2 separate regions of the Homo sapiens genome follow, and region 2 is linked to region 1. Evidence: fine-mapped expression QTL. Tissue or cell type: thyroid. Region 1 holds a variant in brackets; the other region holds the start of a gene. All regions are shown on one strand. Distances are from middle to middle.

Evidence for each region. PIP is the estimated chance that this variant, and not a neighbour inherited with it, causes the effect.
Region 2: LHFPL5 starts here. The variant in region 1 is the best candidate, but not a certain one, in a credible set for the expression of LHFPL5 in thyroid (GTEx, PIP 0.87).

Annotation. Positions count from the first base shown.
Region 1 is chr6:35,946,997-35,957,171 of GRCh38, reverse strand. It overlaps SLC26A8 (solute carrier family 26 member 8), which reads left to right. Exons shown (of 20, transcript NM_052961.4): 17 at 1,652-2,020; 18 at 5,673-5,727; 19 at 5,825-6,009. Among named protein-coding and RNA genes, the nearest start is that of SRPK1, 31 kb to the right of the region's middle. The variant T/G (reference allele first, on the strand shown) is at 4,947.
Region 2 is chr6:35,799,857-35,808,471 of GRCh38, reverse strand. LHFPL5 (LHFPL tetraspan subfamily member 5) reads right to left here and starts at 3,120. Exons shown (of 4, transcript NM_182548.4): 1 at 2,390-3,120. The coding sequence starts at 2,801. RefSeq lists a silencer at 3,082-3,251.

The DNA.
Region 1 (10,175 bases):
TGGCTCACCACAAACTCTGCTTCCTGGGTTCAAGCAATTTTCCTGCCTCAGCCTCCCGAGTAGCTGAGATTACAGGCATTTACCACCCTGTCTGGCTAATTTTGTATTTTTAGTAGAGACGTGGTTTCTCCATGTTGGTCAGGCTGGTCTTGAACTCCCAACCTCAGGTGATCTGCCTGTCTCGGCCTCCCACAGTGCTAGGATTACAGGCGTGAGGCACACCCCCAGCTTTTGTTTTTTTTTTTTTCTTTTGAGATGGAGTTTTGCTCTTATTGCCCAGGCTGGAGTGCAATGGCACAATTTCAACTCCCTGCAACTTCTGCCTTCTGGGTTCAAGCGATTCTCCTGCCTCAGCCTCCTAAGTAGCTGGGATTACAGGCATGCACCACCACACCTGGCTAACTTTGTATTTTTAGTAGAGATGGAATTTCGCCATGTTGGTCAGGCTGGTCTCGAACTCCTGACCTCAGATGATCCACCCACCTCAGCCTCCCAAAGTTCTGGGATTACAGGTGTGAGCCACCATGCCTGGCCTTACTTATCCCTTCAATGAACGTGTGCACACTGCCAGGTAGAGTCTGGTTCCTGTAAATGCAGAGTCCACATTTGCATCCTGCACATCATTGTGTTCCTGGTCCTTGTTACTGTCCTTAAGCTATAGCAGGCAGTCTGGGCCTTTAGGAGGTTGACAGCAGTGGTAAAGACAGCCTTGCTCATGTAATTTTTTTTTTTTTTTTTTTTTTGGACATAAGGTCTTGCTCTGTTGCTCAATCTGGAGTGTGGTGGTGTGGTCACAGCTCACTGCAGCCTCAACCTCCCAGCTTCAAGCGATCCTCTCACCTCAGCCTCCTGAGTACCTGGGACAATAGGCGTGTGCCAGCTTTTTTTGGGGAGGGGGCAGGGGGGCACGACAGGGTCTCACTGTGTCACCCAGGCTGGAGTGTGCACTGGTGCAATCTTGGCTCACTGCAACCTTCATCTCCCAGGCTCAAGCAATCCTCCCACCTCAGCCTCCCCAGTAGGTGGGGCTACAGGCTCACTGACACGCCCAGCTATTTTTATTCTTATTTATTTTTTATTGTTTTGTATTTTTTGTAGAGACAGATTTTTGCCATGTTGCCCAGGCTGGTTTCAAACTGCTGAGCTCAAGGGATCCACCTGCTTTGACCTTCCAAAGTGCTAGAATTATAGGCATGAGCCACTGCACCCAGCCTTCAAGTGCTTTTTGTCTTAAGGAAGTCTGAAAGGAGACTGTTGCACTGATGAAGGAAGAGGGTGCTGAGACAAGGGACTGATGGGAAAAAAATACTTCACACAAAGTATTAGTAGGCACTGGAGACTAACTAGGACCCAAGCATGAGGAAAAGGAGTAAAAGATGTTTTAAGTCTGGCTCACTGGGACAGTGATGAACATCAGAAGTTGGGAGGGGGGTGTCGTGGGTGGTGAAGATGAGGAAAGATGACTGTGGGGGCTTCAGTTGTGAGCTTGAAGTGACAGATATCCAAGTAAAAAATGCACAGTACCTACTCTCGGGAGAAGTTTCATGAGAGAGGGACATGAGCTGGCAGAGACAAGAAATAGCATCGTTGCAAGTCCTTCCGGCCCTTGTTGGTGTCTTACCACAGCCCTCCCTTAACTCTGTCGTCCCAGATTCTTTACACAGAGCGATTTGAAAATAAACTGGATCCCGAAGCATCCTCCATTAACCTGATTCACTGCTCACATTTTGAGAGCATGAACACAAGCCAAACTGCATCCGAAGACCAAGTGCCATACACAGTATCGTCCGTGTCTCAGAAAAATCAAGGGCAACAGTATGAGGAGGTGGAGGAAGTTTGGCTTCCTAATAACTCATCAAGAAACAGCTCACCAGGACTGCCTGATGTGGCGGAAAGCCAGGGGAGGAGATCACTCATCCCTTACTCAGATGCGTCTCTACTGCCCAGTGTCCACACCATCATCCTGGATTTCTCCATGGTACACTACGTGGATTCACGGGGGTTAGTCGTATTAAGACAGGTAAGTACTGAGGAGGCCTTGGCAGGAGCTCTGATCCCCCTCCTACCATCCCAACCCCACCCTGATCCTGATTGAATTCTGTTAGTCACTGATCAGCTGCTATGAGACTGCTAGGCCACCAGAGCCTTGGACACCAAAGGCAGTACAATATAAGGTCAATCAAAATAAAAAGAGAATGAACCAATTCTTTTTTCTTTTTTCTTTTTTGAGATGGAGCCTCACTCTGTTGCCCAGGCTGGAGTGCAGTGGCACAATCTTGGCTCACTGCAACCTCCACCTCCCAGGTTCAAGAGATTCTCCTGCCTCAGCCTCCTGAATAGCTGGAACTACAGGCATGTGTCACTACGCCCTGCTAATTTTTGTATTTTTGGTAGAGACGGGGTTTCACCATGTTGGCCAGGTTGGTCTCAAACTGCTAACCTCAAGTGATCCGCGCACCTCGGCCTACCAAAGCTCTGGGATTACAGGCGTGAGCCACCATGCCCAGCCTAAAATGAACCAATTCTGATGTATTGAGCTGCGGTTGGTTTGGTAAGCATAAAACATTATTATTTCTCAAGAAATGAAAAACAGGACACTCTGAACTTCACTGAAACAGCAATCTGTGCCACGCCCAGTAACTCCCAGAACATCCTGGGAGTCAGCTGCAAATCTCTTCAAGGAATAGGTCTGAATGCTTCAGAAAAAAAGCAGCTCACCAGGAATTCTCCACAGTTCAGCTGATCTGAGCCAGCACTGTAAAAGGCACTGGGCTGTCTTGTACTCCAGTTTGAAGACGTTGGGATGAAATGACACCTCAAACTTGGGGCTGGCTGTCCAGTACCTGCAGGGTCTTCCCCACTTCCTTCCTCACTGACACATCATCAGGTGAAAAGGACAAGGATGATTTTCCCTTCAAAAGCTGTGTCCCCGGGTCCTGACTTCTTTTCTACTCTTGGGTTTCTCTAACAGTTCTCTTTTGTCTTCCTCCTATATGGTACAGACAGTTTAAGTGCACAGCTAACCATATTGATGTCATTGTTTAATGCCTCATAAGTATAATATTCCTTTTTAGCCAGCTTATCCCAGTTTACAGCACTCTGTCTCCCTCTTGGTGATGGCTCAGGTTTGAACATCCTGAACACTCATGGTGTTTGAGTGCTTCTTTTGAGATTTGCACACCTCTTTTGAGATTTGTGCCTTTGGATGGTTTTCCTTCTTTTATCCTCAGAACCTATTTTGTCATATTTTCTTACTCCTAAGGGAATACGACTGCCTCTTAAGTGAGTCCAGCTTCTCTTTGGTCTGGGGCAAAAGGAAGCTTTTCATAGCAGAAAGAACTCTGGTTTGCAGTCTGGGATGTATGCTCTGTCTTGGCTCACTGTCCTTCTGACCCGAGGCAAGTTACTAAATTGAACTGGGTCTCCGTTTCCTAATCTACAAAATGAGAGGTTTGGAAGAGATTAAGAGCTTTCCCATCCATGAGATCCTTTTATTTTTCAACACCACTTTCTGACTCAATTATACTTTGAAAATCTGTTGTTATTTGGGCTTTTCCATCTTATTCTACTGGGCTATGTTCTCCCCTCCTGGTCCTGGGCTGTAGTTGTTACTTTAGATTTTATTCAGCCCACGTTGCTGAGTGTCTACTACGTGCCAGACTGAGCTGGGCACATGTATATACACTATCTCATGTAATTTTCACAACTGCCTTGAGAGACAGGCCATACTTTCCCCTAAGAGTCTGAGGCTCACAGCTCATAAGTGGCCTGTCCAGCATTGAAACTTTTAAGTATCTGACTTTATATCATACTTTCTCTCTGTTCCATGGTATAGTTGTGCCATTGTCTCCCTTGCTCCTCCTCTTTTTGTAGAGGCACCATATGTTCTGGTCCTTGGCAGCACCCACCCACACCTGGCCCATGTTGATGACTTTCTGTTCCATCCCCAACATGGAGACAATGTCAGACGCCTTTCACTTTCAGCCTTCAGAGATTCATGGTGTACTTTTGCACTCTAAAAATACAGGTTTCTTCATTTCCTTTGTAGTTGTGTATACTGCCTCCTTATTGGAAGAAATCATTCTATTTACTTTATAATTGAAAACTGGAACCTAAGAAAAATCCATCAGTCCATTTTTTTTTTTTTTTTTTTTTTTTGAGACAGCATCTTGCTGTGTCGCCCAGGCTGGAGTGCAGTGGCATGATCTCGGCTCACTGCAATCTCCACCTCCCGGGTTCAAGTGATTCTTCTGCCTCAGTCTCCTGAGTAGCTGGGACTACAGGCGCACACCACCACACCCGCATAATTTTTGTATTTTTAGTAGAGACGGGGTTTCACCATATTGGCCAGGCTTGTCTCGAACTTCTGACCTCGTGATCTGCTTGCCTCAGCCTCCCAAAGTGCTGGGATTACAGGCATGAGCCACCGCGCTCAGCCTACCCATCAGTCCATTCTTATTGGAGACAGCCACTCAGATTAAACTTCTTCCTAATTCATGGGACTTTCCTTTTCCAGCACTTGTCATTTAGAGTCTGTTGTGGCCCTTTGCCAAATGACTTTGTGATTTGCCATATGATCAAGAATGACTTCATTTCCTCTTGGTAGTGAAAGAAGCAGAGTTCGTTTCTTTTGACACTTTAACTTAGTGCTCAGGGTTGGTGTCTACTTAGTCTTAAGTATTAAAGTCGATATTGATTTGCTTTGAAGTGAACTTCAAGATTTATTGCCCCACAGTGTATATATTGGCTGAAGCAAACTTGAGGACAGTAGCTGATGTTTACTTATCTGATAGTAAACATCTGATGTTTTACTAAAATCAAATGCAACTTTGCAAGGCAGCTCTGAATGTGACCCTCAGGGTTTCTGAATTCCGTTCCCTACTGCATCACTTGAGCGTCTCTGAGCCACATCTTGCTTCCTCTGCTCAGTAAACTCCAGGGGGAAG[T/G]GGGGGTCTCATGCAAACACTAGGCCATCATGCCAAAATATGGTTGTTTGAGATGATTCTCCAGAGTGTTTGCCTCACACCTGTGCCTGTCTCTATGCTAGGGCTTTCCTCCTGCAGACGTCCTGTCTTGATATATACTGTTTATCCCCTTGAGACTATGGGCAGCTCTCCCTCCTGCTCCCCACCCTCACATGACACGGTCTGATTCTCTTTTGCATTCCCAGCACTGTAGATGTTTTCCGGCATAGAGAACTCCACTCATCAAATGTTTGTAGAGCTGAATTGGGATGCAAGGTACATATACCCCCAGACAAGTGAAGGGCCAAAGGGGTTTTAAAACTCGGCTAATTGGCTGGGTGCAGTGGCCCACGCCTGTAATCCCAGCATTTTGGGACGTCGAGGCAGGCAGATCACGAAGTCAGGAGTTTGAGACCAGCCTGGCCAATATGGTGAAACCCTGTCTCTATTAAAAATACAAAAATTAGCCAGGCGTGTGGTATGCACCTGTAGTCTCAGCTACTTGGGAGGCTGAGGTGGACAAATCACTTGAACCTGGGAGGCGGAGGTTGCAGTGAGCCGAGATCATGCCACTGCACTCCATCTGGGTGACAGAGTGAGACTCTGTCACAAAAAACCAAAACAAAACAAGACAAAAACTTAGCTAATTAGAAGGCCTTTCCTAGCAAGTATAAAGCCTTCTGATACTGGTTTTCTCTCCCCCCACAGATATGCAATGCCTTTCAAAACGCCAACATTTTGATACTCATTGCAGGGTGTCACTGTGAGTATCCTTCACCCTATGAGAGGGCTGTTTTGCACCCTGGGTCCTCTGCTCCCCAAGTATCTGACATTGTGTGTGTTCTGGGTTTGGTTTTTAGCTTCCATAGTCAGGGCATTTGAGAGGAATGATTTCTTTGACGCTGGCATCACCAAGACCCAGCTGTTCCTCAGCGTTCACGACGCCGTGCTGTTTGCCTTGTCAAGGAAGGTCATAGGCTCCTCTGAGTTAAGCATCGATGAATCCGAGACAGTGATACGGGAAACCTACTCAGAAACAGACAAGGTCAGACAAACCGACAAAGCATGAGGTTGGGGGAAGGGATTGAGGGCAGTGGGGGGATGGGTGAGGGGTGGTTGGGGGCTGGGAGTCAGGATTCCTGATCAGATAGAGGAATAATGTCCAGGAAAGGTATTTAGTATGGCTGTACCAGAATCTGGGATGTTGAAATGCACCCTTACCACTTGGTAAATAGCAGTGGATCTGAGCAGCCAAGTGCCCTCACTGTCATGGCATCAGGGTTCCATTCAAGAAATTTCCCTAACTGAAGAGAGGGTTTGCCCAACCCAGCACAGACCTCAAGGATCCTTCTACAGCATTCTTGGTTAGTGTCTATTACCAGTTGCTAAATATTCTAAATGTCTCCCCTAGCTATACCTTTAGAATTCCTCCCCACCCCACCCACTCTTGGGATGAATAATAATACTAATGAACTAGCAGAGATTCAGATCTATAATCTTGTCTAATACCTCAGCTTTATTACCTTTACATTGTTGTGGTATGAGATTTACTCAAGCTGACCAAATGCAAAGGAGAATAATATATAAGTCTGAATTTTCAGCCTTTTATTAATACTGAGACCTGGCTGAGTGCGATGGCTCACGCCTGTAATCCTAGCACCTTGGGAGGCCGAGGCAGGTAGATCATGAGATCAGGAGTTCGAGACCATCCTAGCCAACATGGTGAAACTCCTTCTCTACTAGAACTACAAAAATTAGCCAGGCATGGTGGCGGGCACCTGTAGTCCCAGTTGCTTGGGAGGCTGAGGCAGAATTGCTTGAACCCGGGAGGCAGAGGTTGCAGTGAGCTGAGATCACGCCACTGCACTCCAGCCTGGGCGACAGAGTGAGACTCTGTCTAAAAAAAAAAAAATACTGAGACCTGGGCCTACTTTAGCATTTTCAAATCAGTACCTGTGTAGGTTAAAGGTTTCCAAAAACAAAAAAAGGAAATTAAAACAGATGGGCACTAAAATATTATCTAATATTATCTAATGACTAGAAATCATTATTAAACAAAGCCTAGTTGATGAAATGAGACACCACATCTGAAACAGTTAAGACCGTACAACGGGCGGGCGAGATGGCTCACGCCTGTAATCCCAGCACTTTGGGAGGCCAAGGCAGGCGAATCACTAGGTCAGGAGATCGAGACCATCCTGGTGAAACCCCATCTCTACTAAAAATACAAAAAAATTAGCCGGGCGTGGTGGCACGCGCCTGTAGTCCCAGCTACTTGGGAGGCTGAGGCAGGAGAATCGCTTGAACCCAGGAGGCAGAGGTTGCAGTGAGCCGAGATCGCGCCACTGCACTCCAGACTGGGCGACGGAGTGAGACTCTAAAAAAAAAAACAAAAAAACACACACACACACAACTAGTTAACTGGTAGTTAATAAAAAAACAACTAGTTAACTAGTAGTTAATAATTAGTAATGACTAACTAATTGGTTTGAATTATGCAGTCTGCTTTTACTATAAATGGAAGTTTCTCTATTTTTTAATTTATAATTATGATACTCGATATATTTGTTTTTACATATTTAGTCATATCTATTAATGTTTCCTTTTCTTATTATATTTACTTTTTATTTAGAAAGTCATTCCCTCTTAGAAGGTAAATAAGACACATTTTCTAGATTTTTATGTTTTTATTTTTTATATGTTATACTCTTTAATGTAAATAGAATGTATTTCAGTATACAGGTATTGAAGGGTAATCTTTATTTTTTTTTTATTTTTGAGACAGTCTCATTCTGTCACCCAGGCTGGAGTGCAATGGCATGGTCTCGGCTCACTGCAACCTCTGCCTCCTGGGTTCAAGCGATTCTCCTGCCTCAGCCTTCCAGGTAGCTGGGACTACAGGCGCCCGCCACCACACCTGGATAATTTTTATATTTTTAGTAGAGACAGGGTTTCACTATGTAGGCCAGGCTGGTCTTGAACTCCTGACCTCATGATCTACCCGCCCCAGCCTCCCAAAGTGCTGGGATTACAGGCATGAGCCACTGCACTCAGGCTTAATCTTTATTTTTTATCTATGTAGCTAACTATTTTGGGCTATATGCCATCTATCTTAGTTCATTAGTGCTACTATAACAAAATATCTGAGACTGGGTAATTTGTAAATAATAGATATTTATTTCTCACAGTTCTGAATGCGAGAAGTCCAAGATCAAGGTCCTGGCAGTTTCAGTGTCTGCTGAGGGCTTCTTCCATCTTCTCTCAGCAGCATCCCCACATGGCAGAAGGTGGAAGGACAAAAGGGTTTATGCTAGCCCTCCAGCCCTTTTATAAGGCACTAATCCATTCACAAGGGCAGAGCCCTTATGACTTAATCACTCCCCAAAGGCCTCACCTCTTAATACCACCACAATGTGGATGGATTTTGGAAGCCACTCATGCAAATCATACCACCATCCAACCATCTATTGAATAAGCCTTCTTTCCCCTACTGATATGTTATTTTCATAAAATATTATATTCTTATGAAAACTAAAGTGTATTTCTAGTTTAGTTGTGGATGTCATTTTTCTGTATAGCTTCAGTATCACAGTGTTTTTTGTTTTTGTTTTTGTTTTTTGAGACAGAGTCTCACTTTGTCGCCCAGTCTGGAGTGCAGTGGCACAATCTCGGCTCACTGCAACCTCCGCCTCCCAGGTTCACGTGATTGTCCTGCCTCAGCGTCCTGAGTAGCTGGGCTTACAGGCATGCGCCACCACACCTGGCTTATTTTTGTATTTTTATTTGAGACGAGGTTTCACCATGTTGCCCAGGCTGGTCTCGAACTCCTGACCTCAGGTGATCTGCCCACCTTAGCCTCCCAAAATGCTGGGATTACAGATGTGAGCCATCGTGCCTAGCCATCACACTGTTTTTATTAGTATTGCTGTATAATACACTTTAACATTTGGTTAAGAAGTCCTATGTCATCAGTGTTCTATTTCAAAATTTGCTAAGTCATTCTCACCAATTTATTCTTCCAAACCAACTTTTGAATCTTTTGTCAGGTCCCCACCCCACAAAAACAAATCTTATTGAAATAATCATTAGAGTTGTATTAAAAATATAAAATCCCTTGAGAATTTATATCTTTATAGTATTCATTCTTCTTATCCAGAAACATGAACTGTCTCTACATTTATTGTCTTCTTAAATGTTTCATTCATAGTAAGGTTTTGTGACTTTCTTCACATGGGAAAATCTTAGATACTTTATATGTTTTACTTTTTTGTTTTTTTGAGACAGGGTCTCACTCTGTCACCCAGGCTGAAGTGCAGTGGCATGATCACAGTGCACCACAGCCTCGGCCTCTCAGGCTCAAGCAATCCTCCAACCTCAGCCTCCTGAGTATTTGGGAGTACAGACGCACACCACTATGCCCAGCTAATATTTGTATCTTTCACAGAGACGGGGTTTTGCCATGTTGCCCAGGCTAGTCTTAAACTCCTGGGCTCCAGCAATCCACCCACCTCCACCTCCCAAAGTGCTGGGATTACAGGCATGAGCCACCACACCTGGCCATTTCCATTATATTTTCTAACTGGCAATTGCTAACATATAGGAAACTCATTGGTTTTTATTAAATTATTTGGCTACCTTTGTGAATCACTTTACTATTCCTAAGAGGTTTCACTGTTAATTCCTTTGGGTTTTCCAAATAGGAAAATATTTTCTAAAAATAATACTAATCTCTTATGTTCCAATTGTTAGAATTCTTATTTCAATATCATATATTATTGCATTAACTAAACCTCTCAGAACAAGTAATAATGATGAATCTTGTCTTACTCCTGAATTTAATGAGAAGGATCCTGTGTGTCTCTATTAAGACTAGTGGTGGCCAAGTGTGGTGGCTCATGCCTGCAATCCTAGCACTTCGGGAGGCCAAGGAAGGCGGATCACTTGAGGCCAGGAGTTTGAGACCAGCCTGGCCAACATGACAAAACCCTGTCTCTACAAAAAATACAAAAAAATTAGCTGGGCATGCTGGCGCGTGCCTATAACCCCAGCTACTCAGGAGGCCAAGGCATGAGAATCACTTTAACCCAGGAAGCGGAGGTTGCAGTGGGCTGAGATCCTGCCACTGCACTCCAGCCTGGGCAACAGAGCGAGACCCTGTTTCAAAAAAAAATTAAAAAATAAAAGACTAGTGGTGATGCTGGTTTAAGATGG
Region 2 (8,615 bases), 150 kb after region 1:
TTCGCCATGTTGCTCAGGCTGGTCTCGAACTCCTGAGCTCAAGCAATCTGCCCACCTCGCCCTCCCAAAGTGCTGGGATTACAGGCCTGAGCCACTGCAGCTGGCCTTATTATTATTTTTATTTATATATATTATTTATTATGATTATTTTTAATTTATATATATATATATATAAAATAGAGATAGGGTCTCACTATGTTGTCCAGGCTGGTCTTGAAGTCTTGAACTTCTGGCCTCAAGCAATCCCCTCTCCTTGGCCTCCCAAAGTGCTAGGACTACAGGCATGAGCCGCTGTGCCTGCCCCCACCATCATTCTTGACATGGCCACCACCTACCTTGCTCCCCACTGCCCACCCCTGCCCCGGCCTCTCTCTTATCATACAGAGAGACTACAGAGAACAGGGAGGTGGCAAGGGGATTTGCTGGGAACTCTGAAGCCATGTGAGTAGCCTGGGTGCAAGATTTGGAATCAAAGGTGCATGCCTTCCTACTTGTATGCTCAAAGACAAGTTACCCACTAGGGGCCTTCTTTGTAAAATAGATAAATACCCACCTCAATGGGTTGTGCTGGGGCTCCTCCAGATATTATATGTAAAGATATTTCATAGATCATTATACTTATGTAAATATGTGGCTCAGTAAAAACATCTTAGGAATACATCTAGTTCCTTGGTCCTCAGTTGCCCGCTTAATTCTTCCTGGTCCTCAGGTGCCTGCTGATCTGCTACAGCCTTGGCCAAGTCTGGTCCTTTCTCTCAGCAGCAGATTCCTCATCTATAGTTGGGGGGTGGATATAGCTCTCTGGGGTCCCCTCCAACTCTGCAGTCTTGAATCTGCATGTTTGGTGGTCTGGGATTCAGATGCCTGTTTCAGTCTCCCTCTTAAAGATGACAGCACTTCTCATTCTGACCAATGAGATGGTTTCACTCTAGTTTCCAGTCCCCGGCACTACTCCTGGACATCTCACCGACATGGACAGTTTGTGGCCCCTGAGGTGTGCAGGGACCAAGGTACCAGAGGCTGCAGCACAAGGTCTTAACCCTCTTCCTGGGCTACAGAGAAGAGCAAGACCACTTGGCACAAGGACCAAGAAGCCTTCCTGAGCTAGAAGCAGGAAAAAGGACCAGGGAGGTTTTGCCTCAAGGCACAAGTAGCTGCCTACCCCACAGTTTTATTTGTTTTATTTTATTTATTATTATTATTATTATTTTTAGAGACAGGGTCTTTCCATCTTGCCCAGTCTAGTCTCAAACTCCTGAGCTCAAGTGATGCTCTCTCCCAAAGTGCTGGGATTACAGGTGTGAGCCGCTGTGCCCAGCCCCCACATTGTTTTAAAGGACCCTAGGCCAGGTGCTGTGGATCACATCTGAAATCCCAACACTTTGGGAGACTGAGGCAGGCAAATCACTTGAGCCCAGCAGTTCAAGACCTGCCTGGGCAACATGACAAAACCCCGTCTCTACAAAAAATACAAAAAAAATTAGCTAGACATGGTGGTGCGCACCTGGAGTCCCAGCTACTTGGGAGGCTGATGTGAGAGGATCACCTAAGTCCAAGGAGGTTGAGGCTGCAGTCAGCTGAGATCATGCCACTGCACTCCAGCCTGAGCCAAAGAGTGAGACTCTGTCTCAAAAAACAAACAAACAACAACAACAACAAAAGGACCCTAAATAGCTTCCTCTACCTCACAAAATATCACTCCATTTGCTGCCTTAAGTATAAAATCCCATGATCAAGGAAAAAAGACTTTCACTCCACAATGAAAGAGGGGAATTTAGATGAAAGTTTCTATAGGCAAGGTCATACCCTGCATAATAGTAACACTCCAAAATCAGCAAGAGACCTTAGAATCTGAGAGCAGTTTGGAGTGGGAGAGAGAGAATGAGGACAGAGTTCTGGGCACTCTTAAAAAGAACAAAAGCCCAGAGGTGGGAGATGAAGGCATCTAGAATGTGCTTGACTGGTGTCACTACTTTGTGCTAGGGTTGAGTCCTATTCCCACATGGCCAACAATGGAAGCTTCCTTCTTTCTCTCTCTCACAGCTGCAAAAACTGATGTGATGGCCTGGGAATCAGGACTGGCAACTGTGTGCTCCTGGGCAAGTCACTTCCCCTTACAGATGAGGTTCTGGGCTCAGATGAGGTTCTGGGCTCAGAACCTCATCTGTAGGATGAGAGGGTTGGACAGCTTGGTCTCTAAGGTCTTTTCTGCCTCTGCCATTTTAAGATTCTCAACTCCTCAGAATCTTCTGCAGAGCACTGAGTAGGACTGGGCTATAGGAGAACAGCTAAATTTAAGGCCCAGAGCCCTGGCAGAGGCTGGGATGGTGCAGCTGCAGCTGTGGCCCCGGGGTGGGCCCCTGCCTGCCCTCCCACCATCTCTGCTTACCCGCAGCCAGCTGCATCCATGCACAGATCTTATAGACTGTGGCCGTGTTGCAGATGAAGAACAGGCTGAAGCAGATGATGGAGCCAATGATGAGGAACATGCCCAAGGCCACAAAGAACATGGCAGTCTTGAAGGCTCTAGAGGGGATGGAGGAGAAGTCTAGGGGGCCGCCCTTGCAGATGAGCTCGGAGGACAGCACGTTACCCACGCAGTAGGAGAAAAGGCCGAAGTAGCCTGCCTGCGGTGTGTTGACGCTGTCGCCGATCCAGTAGGGCTGGATGAAGAGGGCCATGACCAGTACGGAGAAGCAGATGGTGAGGGTACCCCACATCACGCCCACGGCTCGCGAGTTCCGCACATAGTTGGTATGGTAGATCTTGGCTGCCTCCTGGGCCGGCAGCAATTTCACCATGGTGAGGGCAGCAGGCCCTGGGCTGGGGTCCCGTGGGCTGCAAGTCCGTAGCTTTGTGGATGGAGGCCTAGAAGCAGGTCACTCCCCAGCGGGGTTTGGGGAGGAGGCTGAGGTCAGGGCACCAGGTGAGGTCCCTTCAAGGCAAGGGGAAGAGGCTTAATAGGACAAGGACAACCTTGATTTGGTCAAGGAAAGCTTGCCAGGTGCCTGTGTCCGCTCTAGCCGAGGCTGTCTCCAGTCTCCTGCCTCCTCCCAAGCCCACCAGGGCCTGCTGGCGCCGCCCTGCCCGTCTCCCTCTTCCCGGCTCACGGCTCCCGAGAGCCCCGCCCCCTCCTCCGTCCGCGGAGGGCGCCGTTTCAGCACCGCGGCCAGCGCCCCGGGGTTCCGGGCGAGGGGCGGGGCCTGCAGCAGAGGCGGGGAAGGGGCAGAGCTCCCACTACAGGCCCCCGCCGCGGGGAATCGGAACACCGTTCACCTTCCTGAACCGAGATGACAAGAATTGGGAAGGTGGGGATGTGACTGACACATTCCTACTGCTCAATTCCAGCAGCAAAAACGCTTTCCCCCCGCAAAAGCGCTGTCCACATCCCATCCCACCCCGCCCCTGCCTGGCTCCCTAGTCGCCTTCCCAGAACCTCCAACTCCACCACTCCGGAGGTCAGCAAAGCCTTTCCTGGTTGCCTTCTGGTCACCGGTTTTTCGTCCTTAGCATTCAGTCAACGATTTCTAAAAGCATACTATGTGTTAAGATTATGTTGGAGGACATCTAAGCAAAACCACAGATAAAAAAGACAGGGCCCCCGTCCTCAAAGACAGTGAAATATTTACATATATAATATACGTATATATGTAGTCTATATAAATATATATATAAAACGCCTGTATATGCAGACTGATTGTGTGATAACAGAAGCAACTACAAAGTATAGCAGACAACATTCTTTATGAGCCTTCTCAGACCTGAACATATGTGTTTTGTCAAATACAATGCCTTTCTCCCCTTGTTTCTATTTGTTTGTTACATATTTCCCCATTTAAATATATATATGTTTTAATATATTATATATATACATATTTCTCCTGATTTTATAGGTAAATACATGGCTAGTGTAAAGAACTAGGAAAATTCCACTGGGCGTGGGGCTTACGCCTGTAATCCCAGCACTTTGGAAGGCCAAGGCAGGCGGATCATGAGGTCAGGAGATCGAGACCATCCTGGCTAACACAGTGAAACCCCGTCTCTACTAAAAATACAAAAAAATTAGCCGGGCGTGGCAGCACGCGCCTGTTGTCCCAGCTGCTGGGGAGGCTGAGGCAGAAGAATGGTGTGAACTCGGGAGGCGGAGCTTGCAGTGAGCCGAGATCGCGCCACTGCACTCCAGCCTGGGTGACAGAGCAAGACTCCGTCTCAAAAAAAAAAAAATAATAATAATAATAACACCAACGTCCGGAGCTAAGGAAAGACAAGACAATCTTAAAAACATGGACTTTGGGGTTCAACAGGCCTGGATTTGAATGAGCTACTTACTAAGTAACCATCCATGGACTTAACCTTCCTTCCGGAGCCTCAGTTTCGCCATCTATTAAATGCAGGAAATGCACTTACGCCGGGCGTAGTGGCGGGTGCCTGTATTCCCAGCTACTCAGGAGGCTGAGACAGGAGAATTGCTTGAACCCCGGGAAGCAGAGGTGGCAGTGAGCTGAGATCGCACCATTGCACTCCAGCCTGGGCAACAAGAGCAAAACTCCATTTCAAAAAATAATAATAATAATTTTTTTTTTAAAGTGCTCAAAGGTACATTAGTGGTCTCTAATCCCAGCACTTTGGGAGGCCAGGCAGTCCGATCACTTGAGCTCAGGAATTCTAGACTAGCCTGGGCAACATAGCAAGACTCCCGTCTCTACAAAAAATACACAACTTAGCCAGGCATAGCCAGGCATGGTGGTGCTTGCCTGTAGTCGCAGCTACTTGGGAGGTTGAGGTGGGAGAATCACTGGAGCCCAGGAGGTCGAGGCTGCAGTGAACCATGATCACACCACTGCACTCCAGTCTGGGCTTTAACAAAAAAAGAGAAAGTACTCAAAAATGTTGGTGATTATTATTATTACCATTGTTAATCTCTGCAGTTTCCCCCTTCTGAACATACTCCTTTACACAATTGGATGATGTATGTACAATTTTATTTTATTTTATTTTATTTTATTTTTATTTTACTTTTCTTGAGACAGAGTTTCACTCTTGTTGCCCAAGCTGGAGTGCAATGGCATGATCTTGGCTCACAGCAACCTCCGCCTCCCTGGTTCAAGCGATCCTCCTGTCTCAGCCTCCCAAGTAGCTGGGATTACAGGCATGCACTGCCATGCCCAGCTAGTTTTTTGTTTTGTTTTGTTTTTTGTTCTTTGAGACAGAGTTTTGCTCTTGTTGCCCAGACTGGAGTGCAGTGGCGCGAACTTGGCTCACGGCAACCTCCACCTTCCTGGTTCAACTGATTCTCCTGCCTCAGCCTCCTGAGTAGCTGGGATTACAGGCATGGCCGCCACACCCAGCTAACTTTGTATTTTTAGTAGAGACAGGGTTTCTCCATGTTGGTCAGGCTGGTCTCGAACTCCCAACCTCAGGTGATCCACCTGCCTCGGCCTCCCAAAGTGCTGGATTACAGGCATGAGCCACCGTGCCCGGCCGTATGTACATTTTTTTCACTTAGCATTATAATGTTAATATTTTCTCCTATTACTTTTTTTCCCTTTGGTATGTTTTGTCAGTTTCACATTTTTTTTTTTTTTTTTTTTAGACAGAGTTTTGCTCTGTCACCCAGGCTGGAGTACAGTGGCTCAATCTCAGTTCACTACAACCTCCACCTCCCGGGTTCAAGCGATTCTCCTGTCTCAACTTCCCAAGTAGCTGAGAGTACAGGCATGAGCCACCATACCCAGCTAATTTTTGTATTTTTAGTAGAGGCGGGGTTTCACCATGTTGGCCAGGCTGGTCTCGAACTCCTGACCTAAAGTGATCCACCTGCCTCGGCCTCCCAAAGTGCTGGGATTACAGGCTTGAGCCACTGAGCCTGGCCCTTCACTTTTTCACTTTATTTATTTTTTTTGAGACGAAGTCTCACTCTGTTGCCCAAGCTGGAGTGCAGTGGCGCAATCTCGGCTCACTGCAACCTCCACCCACCTCCCGGATTCAAGTGATTCTCCTGCCTCAGCCTCCCAAGTAGCTGGGACTACAGCCGTGAGCCACCACACTCAGCTAATTTTTGTATTTTTATACAGACAGGGTTTCACTATGTTGGCCAGGCTGGTCTCGAACTCCTGACCTAGTGATCCGCCCGCCTTGGCCTCCCAAAGTGCTGGGATTACAGCTGTGCCCGGCCAGTAAGGTTGTTTTGTTTAATTTTGTTTTGTTTTGTTTCGTTTTATTGAGACGAAGATTCGCTCTTGATGCCCAGGCTTGAGTGCAATGGCACAGTCTCGGCTCACTGCAACCTCCGCCTCCCAGGTTCAAGCGATTCTCCTGCCTCAGCCTCCCAAGTAACTGGGATTACAGGCATGTGCCACCATGCCTGGCTAATTTTGTATTTTTAGTAGAGATGGGGTTTCATTATGTTAGTCAGGCTGGTCTCAAACTCCTGACCTCAAGTTATCTGCCCGCCTCGGCCTCCCAAAGTGTTGGGATTACAGGCGTGAGCCACCGCACCTGGCTCAGGTTGTTTTTAATAGTAAAAAAGTGGCTGGGTGCAGTGGCTGGCTCACACCTGTAATCCCAACATTAATAATAATTTTGAAGCTAGCTTATGTATTAAAGATTTTACTTACATTACATAAACTTGAAACAGCATTTGACTAGTCTTTTTTCCTGATAAAGTGTTCAAGTGCTTTTATTTTCTTAAGCCAATTAGAGCTCTTTTATTTATTTTCAGTAGTGAAACACTGTGCACACCACCCATAAATACATAGACATATCAGGCATGCCTATAGAAGTACATCTTACAGATTTATAAAAACCTTTTTTTTTCCTATTTTAATCTTTCAGATTCTTTTTGTTTGTTTTTGAGATGGAGTCTCGCTCTGTCACCTAGGCCGGAGTGCAGTGGTGCAATCTTGGCTCACTGCAACCTCTGCCTCCCAAATTGAAACAATTCTTCTGCTTCAGCCTCCCGAGTAGCTGGGATTACAGGTGCCTGCCACCATCCTCAGTTAATTTTTCTATTTTTAGTAGAGACGGGGTTTCACCAGGTTGGCCAGGAAGGTCTCAAACACCTGACCTCAAGAGTTATCAAATTCTTGATAACCTCTTTCACAACCCTAGGCAGTTGACAGCTAAATAGCCTTAAATTTGCATATTAAAGGAAACAGTTCAGATGAAAGTCAAACAGCAAAATTTACATTATAAGGTGCGCCAAGAAAAGTCTGGTGTTCTAGAGGGAAATTAAAACAGATTTAATTGCCAATTAAACATAAAAGTATGGAAATTATAAAGGCCTTTTAAACACACACACACACACACACACCTTGTAGCTTTTACTTCAGAACTTTTAGCCATGAAATAAATACAAATTCACCTGGCTTGCAAAAAGAACTTGTTGGATCTAAACAGTGGTTTTTCTCTTAATAGAAAAATAACAGCAGATTGCCGGGCGCGGTGGCTCACGCCTGTAATCCCAGCACTGTGGGAGGCCAAAGTGGGCGGATCACGAGGTCAGGAGTTCCAGACCAGACTGGCCAACATGGTGAAACCCCATCTCTACTAAAAATACAAAAAATTAGCTGGGTGTGGTGGCAGGCACCTATAATCCCAGCTACTCAGGAGGCTGAGGCAGGAGAATGACTTGAACCCGGGAGGCAGAAGTTGCAGTGAGATGAGATTGTGCCATTGCACTCCAGGCTGGGCAACAGAGTGAGACTCCATCGAAAGGAAGGGAGGGAGGAAGGAAGGAAGGAAGGAGGGAAGGAAGGAAGGAAGGAAGATTTAGAGCAGGCAGAAAAGAAAAATAGAGAAAAAGATGACTTAGGAATTCTATAGTTTGCAGGTCAACCTTAGGGCTCTTTTTCCTTAATGTAAATGTGCACAAAGACCACGTTATTTCCATTTTACATAAACTTTGTCAGGTAGAGGTGCCATAAAAGCTACGGAGTGCTCAAAAGGGGGTCATTTTCTTTGTTTTCTCCTCATTCTGAAACCACCTTTGCAAAATTATGACTGAGACAGTGAAAGAGATCTAACTTAAGTGACTCCATCTTGTTTCTAACCTCCAAGCTGTCCTTGTTCATTCCTAGGCGTAAGCTGAACTAACTTTGGGAGAAACTTAGTTTATAGTTTAAACAAAGACAGTAACAGCCCTTTCCCAAAGCTGACTTCATTCTTGCCTGGGGACTAGATTGCCTTTGTAGGACTAACATTAGCCACAAGATTAGAAATTATGGTTTAGGAGTCACGCAGCTGGAGGCTACAAGATCCTGATCCTCCCTAAACTACTCCTAAGATCAGTGCTTGAGATATTTTGCTGACCCTGCACTTGATGGATCAGCTGGCCCCACCCAGATCAATAAACTGGCTCATCTGATCTTGTGGCCCTCACCCAGTAATTGACTGGGTGCACGAAGACAGCTCTGAGTCCCTATGATTTCATCTCTGACCAATCATCACCCCTGGCTCACTGGCTTCCCCCCACCCACCAAGTTATCTTCAAAAACTCTGCTCCCTGCTGGGCATGGTAGCTCATGCCTGTAATCCCAGCACTTTGGGAGACTGAGGCAGGTGGATCACTTGAGGTCAGGAGTTCAAGACCAGCCTGACCAACATGGTGAAACCCC